Linked DNA regions of Homo sapiens. The protein of the gene in region 2 purifies or fractionates together with the protein of the main gene of each other region. This does not show direct contact. Each region holds a gene or a part of one and is shown on either strand. Other genes may lie near its edges.

Region 1 (3,500 bases), on a different chromosome or scaffold from region 2:
TTATAGCAGGCCTGTGGAGGCCTTTTGCATGCCTTAACACTGGAAACAGGCCTTTTCCACGTGTTCCTGCTGTTCATGCATCTCCTTTCTGTACCCTAAGAGAGTGGGGAAGGTGTACTCACCTCAAGAAATGCCTTATGGAATGCATCTGAGACATAGAGGTCATCTCGGCCTTCTGCAACAATACCTGGAAGGAAGACCGGAGAAGTCTTTGTGAGATGGGAGAAAGTTGGCTTCAACCCACAGATGGGAATTCAGTTTGGATTAAGAGATCCTTTGGGGCTTTTTGAAACATAAGAAGAAATCCTAAATCTTCACCTAATCATACTCTCACAATGAATATGTGTTAAAAATAATAAAGTACTTTGGGGGCTGGGTGCAGTGGCTCACACCTGTAATCCCAGCACTTCGGGAGGCCAAGGTGTACAGATCACCTGAGGTCAGGAGTTGGAGACACTCTAACTAATATGGTGAAACCTTGTCTCTATCGTGAAAATACAAAAATTAGCCAGGTGTGGTGGCGCATGCCTGTAATCCCAGCTACTTGGAAGACTGAGGCAGGAGAATCGCTTGAACTCGGGAGGTGGAGGTTGCAGTGAGCCAAGATCACGCCACTGCACTCCAGCCTGGGCAACAAGAGCAAAACTGCATCTCAAAAATAATAATAATAATAATAATAATAATAATAATAATAATAATAAAAGTACTTTGGGCTTGTTCAGCATGGCTCCTGATAATTCATTCTCAGGCTTCAGCTTTTTGTGGGAGAGAGAAACGGCAAGACTCTGTTCTTACAGAAAAAACTCACTCCATCCAGAAGGAACATCTTTCTTTCCAGTCTGGCAACATTTTTAGTTTTCAAAACTAGCTTAAAGACAGCCCAATAGCACAGTGGCTCACGCCTGTAATCCCAGCACTTTGGGAGGCCAAGGCAGGTAGATCGCCTGAGGTCAGGAGTTCAAGACCAGCCTGGCCAACATAGTGAAACCCCGTTTCTACTAAAAATGCAAAAATTAGCCGGGCGTGGTGGCAGGCGCCTGTAATCCTAGCTCCTTGGGAGGCTGAGGCAGGAGAATCACTTGAATCTGGGGGGTGGAGGTTGCAGTGAGCCAAGATTGCACCACTGCACTCCAGCCTGGGGGACAAGAGCAAGACTTCGTCTCAAAAAAAAAAAAAAAAAAAAAAGGTCAATAAAGATAAATCTAATTACTTAACATCGTAAACTTATTTTATTATTTATTTATTTATTTAGTGATAGGACCTCACTCTGTTGCTCAGGCTGGAGTGCAGTGGTGTGATCACAGTACACCACAGCGTTGACCTCCCGGACTCAGGCAATCCTCCCAGCTCTGCCTCCCAAGAAGCTAGGACTACAGGTGTGCGTCACCATGCCTGGCTAATTTTTTTTATTTTTTGTAGAGACCATCTCACTATGTTGTCCAGGCTGGTCTCGAACTCATGGGCTTAGACGATCCTCCCACCTCAGCCTCCCAAAGTGCTGGTATTACAGGCGTGAGCCACCCTGGCCAGCCAACTTCTTTAAAAGATATTTTAATGTGCCAGGTGCGGTGGCTGACGCCTGTAATCCCAGCACTTTGGGAAGCCAAGGCAGGCGGATCACAAGGTCAAGAGTTCAAGACCATCCTGGCCAACATGGTGAAACCCATCTCTACTAAGAATACAGAAATTACCAGGTATGGTGACGTGTGCCTGTAATCCCAGCTACTCAGGAGGCTGAGGCATGAGAATCGCTTGAACCCGGGAGGCAGAGGTTGCAGTGAGCCGAGATCGCACCGCTGCACTCCAGCCTGGGCAACAGAGTAAGACTCTGTCTCAAGTAATAATAATAATAATAATAAATGTCAGTGAGGCCTGTGTAATGGGAACCACATTTCCCCAGCTCTTAATATCTGTCTCTTTGCTCTGAATTCCAATGCCCTTTCAAATTCCTCTCCACCTGGTCCCATCTCCTCTACCTGATACAGACTCACAGGGCACCAGTGCTAGCTGGGCCCATGGAGATCCAAGAACAAACTTCCCTTTTACAGAAGAGGAAACTGAGGTCTCAAAAGGAAAAGAGATTTCCACAAATTAGCAGTAGAAACTAGGATCAGTATCCAGGAGTCCTGACTTGTTGCTCCTTTCTATTCTTTCTCCAACTCTTCCACTTTTGGTCAGACTACCTTGCGGGTGGAGAAGGGAGGAAACTCCTTCCTAGACAAACCTGGGAGTTTGGACTTTTCAGGGCTGAACAGATCGACAAGGCCCATGTCTTGCAGCTGCTCCTTCAAACTGAAGCCGTCCTCAATGCGGAAGCGGGGCATGTGGACCACCAGCATCATCTCCTCCAATTCATCCAGCCACTCTTGCAGCACCTCTGGGGTGAGTTCCTTCTCTACCTTGGCCAGGCTCTTCTCAGGCTTGGGCAAGATGAGGACCATGGTGATGTCATCACCTTTGAAGGGCAACTCAAGCACCTGGGTGCCTTCAGCCACGCGCCGATAACGGAACTTGCCTTCCTGGTACATCATAGATGCTGAACACGACTCTCCATCAGCCTTGTAGAACAGTTCCTTCCTTGTGTTCTCAGGGCTGAACTTTGACTTCCACAGGCCCTGGAAGAGAATCACAAAGTAAGAACACAAACATTCATAGGAGGATAGTTATTGACACAAGACATATCCATATTATAGTGTTACATTAATATATAATTATTCGGAAAAAAGACTGGCGGGATATGCACAAAAAGGTTAACAATGGCTGTGTCAGAATGATGGAATTATGAGTAGGTTTATTCATAACTGTCAAACCTTGGAAGCAGCCAAAATGTCCTTCAGTAGATGAATAGACAGACTGTGGTACATCCAGACCAAATGTAATGCTATTCCATGCTAAGAAGAAATGAGTGACAAAGCCACGAAAACACAAAGGAACAGTAAATGCATTTTACTAGGTGAAAGAAGCCAATCTGCCGGGCGCGGTGGCTCATGCCTGTAATCCCAGCACTTTGGGAGGCCGAGGTGGGCAGATCACGAGGTCAGGAGATCAAGACTATCCTGGCTAACACGGTGAAACCCCGTCTTTACTAAAAAAAAACCAAAAAATTAGCCAGGCATGGTGGTGGGTGCCTGTATTCCCAGCTACTTGGGAGGCTGAGGCAGGAGAATGCCGTGAACCCAGGAGGCGAAGCTTGCAGTGAGCCGAGATCACGCCACTGCACTCCAGCCTGGGCGACAGAGCGAGACTCTGTCAAAAATAAATAAATAAATAAATAATAGATTGACCTGCCCTGCTGACCTGTACCTGTGTAGCTTTCGGCAGTCCATTTGCCCTCTCAGGGCTTCGGTCTCGCCATTTAAAAAAAAAGGGGGTAAGCTGAAGAGCAAGAGGAAGTCCCTGGGGTCTCTCCAGGGCCATTCTGAGTACCTTGAAGTAAATGGTGTTAACCAGCACCAGAACAGTGAGCTCATTGATGGCTTCCGAGGGAATGACATCGGTGA
Region 2 (3,015 bases):
AATCCATCTGTTGGAAGATCAACAATTGGAACGAGTTTTGGAAATGTTCATCTGGACAGAAGTAAAAATGAAAAAGTATCAAGAAAATCAACCAGTCAGACAGGAAATAAAAGCTCAAAAAGGAAACAGGTGGATTTGGATGGTGAAAATATTCTCTGTGATAATAGAAATGAACCACCTCAACATAAAAATGCTAAAATACCTAAGAAATCAAATGATTCACAGAATAGATTGTACGGCAAACTAGCTAAAGTAGCAAAAAGTAATAAATGTACTGCCAAGGACAAGTTGATTTCTGGCCAGGCAAAGTTAACTCAGTTTTTTAGACTATAAATTTGTGTCTTATATGCTTTAGGTTTATGTATCTATAAACCATTCACCAAAGACATGCTTAATTTTTAAGAGATCAAGGTGTAAATTATGATGATTTATTATTTTGGTCTACAGTGTATGTAAGGTTAGTATGTTAAGCATTGTTTAAAAATACTAGTAAGTCATAATTATGCAGAATTTTCACAAAGTTTAATGCACAGAGAAAGCATATCATTTCAGTTACTGATACATCTTAACACTACTTTCTTTTAAAACAGACATTTAACATACACAAGTTATAGTAGCAGTATGGGCTTCTCCTCCCATTGGCAATTAAATGCTTTTATTTTCTTCTGAAAAGATGATGTGGACCAACAGGTATCAGACTTGCCAACAAGGTCGGTAGACTCTTCCCAGCATACATCTGAGCACTGAAGGAAGAAGAAAGTTTAAATTGTTTAAAGGACTATAATTATCACACAAAATTTATTAAGAAAAAAAGAATGGATCTAGTATAACTAATTCTGAGTAAACCAAAATGATAATAATTAATTGTTGCTATTTAATCCCACATTTTTGGCAGGTGTAATTGAGCCATGGTCTTATTTGATTTTGTTATGATTGCATCCAAATTCACTTTAACTCAGAGTTCTGTTTAATGGTGGTAGGATGTAAGAATTGAATTTTGAAAAGACTACTCACTGTCAAAATCTCTCCTTCCTATAGGAAATTTAGCTGAGTTTTCTTCATCCCCAATTTCTCTCTTTTCTTGTGTTGATTCAGTATTCTGAACTCCATTCTCAGCTGGGAAAGCTACAGATCCTTTTAGTGCAAGATAAGGTTTTATAGCCAGATTCAGTGGCAGACCATGATTTAAGAAATTATGTTTGGAGCCTGTGTTCTGTAAAGAGAAGGTTGATTTGGTTTTTAGCTATCGTATTCGGAGTGGAACTATAATACAATTGTATAATATTCTTGTTGATCAATTCAAAGTTACTCTGCACTGTTTTTGACTTTTTAAAAATACCTTAGATGCAAATTTATAGGAGAAAAAACACTTTCAGATAAGAGGTGTTTGCTGGGATGGAAGAACTACCTGGCATGTAAGAAATATCGTCAGTCGTCCTAATGCATATTGTGACTGTTTGCATATACTTCTGTTTATAAAAGTATCAGTTTTACTTTTCAGAGGATTTGTAAGAATCATTTAAATTTTCATTGAAATAAACGACAAGTCACATTGCCACTTACCTTTGAAACTTTATTTTCCTCTTCGTTCATGAAACTGCTCTCATCATTTTTATATTGTTCCAGGGAAGGAGCAATAACTGATTTTTCTGCAGTGTCTTCCTTCTGAAAGCCTTTCCCCAACCTGAATGTATTAAATACCATGTCATCATCTAAATTTCTTATGGACTTGGATGCTGAAAGTAAAATACCTTGAGAAAACAAAGAAAAAGTTAGTATTAATATATAGGAAGAGAGATTCATTTTTGCCATTCTTAGTTTGATGTTTGCATACAGTCAAACAAGAAAGAAAATGAAAAATTTCTCTGTCAGCCTGCTTGGTAAACGATTCTGTATCTTTATATATTTTCTAGCTTGAATAGAAAGCACTTCAAAGAATTATACTTTTCATCATTTTAGAAATGACTCATTAGATTGAGGCTAACCTTTATGCAGCTGCTAATACCTACATTGTTTTGGTTTTAGTGACACATTGTTTATTTTGAGTGTGAATTTTCTCAGAATCTGACTAAGATCCTTGGTAGAATGCTTTCTGTTGAGTAGATTATAGTCTCTTGAAAATGGGTTGTTATTAAGGAAGACCACAGGACATCAGGCTCTCTCTATATTATTGTTTCCTTTTGTGTATTTTCTGATTAAGTAAAGATATTAAAACTCAAGTTATTTCACTCAAGGATGATAAGGATAAAGTTTTATTTCCTTTTAATCCTGATTAAACTGAAATAATCCTCAAAAGAGACTTTCTTTTATAAATACTTGATATAGTTTTTGGTGATTAAAGTACATATGCCTGTCAGTGTGAACAAAAAGCCATTCATGCTATATCAAAAATTGACCTGTCAGGTGTATTTTATCTCTGCATTTACAAAAGGATAATATGTACAAATATTTATTAATGAATTTAGAAATTAATGAATTAGTCCATGAAAAGAATATTTATGTGCCCATAAACATTACTTTTGGATGATGAGTTTATGTTGTATGACTTTTAATTAAACATTTCAGAGTTAATTTCTAATTTTGACCCCAATGAATAAGATAATACATTCTTTTATATGTCTTCTGGTACATATATGTAAGAATTTTTCTAGAGTATATTTCTCAGTATGGAATTACTGGATCATGGAGTATGTATATGTTCAGCTTTACTAATGCCAAAATGTTTTCCAACATAGTTGTAAGCGATTTGTGCCCTCGATAAGCAGGGTATGAGAATTTCCATTGTTCCATGTCCTAGCTGACTCTTGTGTCTCATTGTCCTTTTAATTTGTATTTTCCTAATTACCAAAGAGGTTAAGTGTCTTCCCATATGTTTCTGAGCCATTTATGTTTCCTCTTATGTTAAATGCTTTTTTTTTTTTTCTTTTTTGGCTTTGTCCATTTTTCTATTGGGTTGTCTTTTTCTAATTTATTTATGGGAGTTCTTTATATATTCTGGATATTAATTGTTAGTTA

The links.
Region 1: the proteins of PMCH (region 2) and SERPINC1 purify together in Homo sapiens (affinity purification with mass spectrometry; one large-scale study listed by BioGRID and IntAct). This does not show direct contact.

Annotation. Positions count from the first base shown.
Region 1 is NC_000001.11:173,907,328-173,910,827, forward strand, and holds part of SERPINC1 (antithrombin-III isoform 1 precursor), read right to left. Parts: coding exon 3,427-3,500; coding exon of another isoform or gene 3,304-3,426; intron 2,616-3,303; coding exon 2,225-2,615; intron 188-2,224; coding exon 123-187; intron 1-122. UniProt on the Homo sapiens protein: Most important serine protease inhibitor in plasma that regulates the blood coagulation cascade. AT-III inhibits thrombin, matriptase-3/TMPRSS7, as well as factors IXa, Xa and XIa. Its inhibitory activity is greatly enhanced in the presence of heparin.
Region 2 is NC_000012.12:102,195,959-102,198,973, forward strand, and holds PMCH (pro-MCH preproprotein), read right to left. Parts: upstream 1,876-3,015; 5' UTR 1,813-1,875; coding exon 1,564-1,812; intron 1,563-1,563; exon of another isoform or gene 1,214-1,562; coding exon 1,015-1,213; coding exon of another isoform or gene 1,007-1,014; exon of another isoform or gene 744-1,006; coding exon 694-743; 3' UTR 501-693; downstream 1-500. Other genes in the region: PARPBP (PCNA-interacting partner), read left to right, coding at 1-333. UniProt on the Homo sapiens protein: MCH may act as a neurotransmitter or neuromodulator in a broad array of neuronal functions directed toward the regulation of goal-directed behavior, such as food intake, and general arousal. May also have a role in spermatocyte differentiation.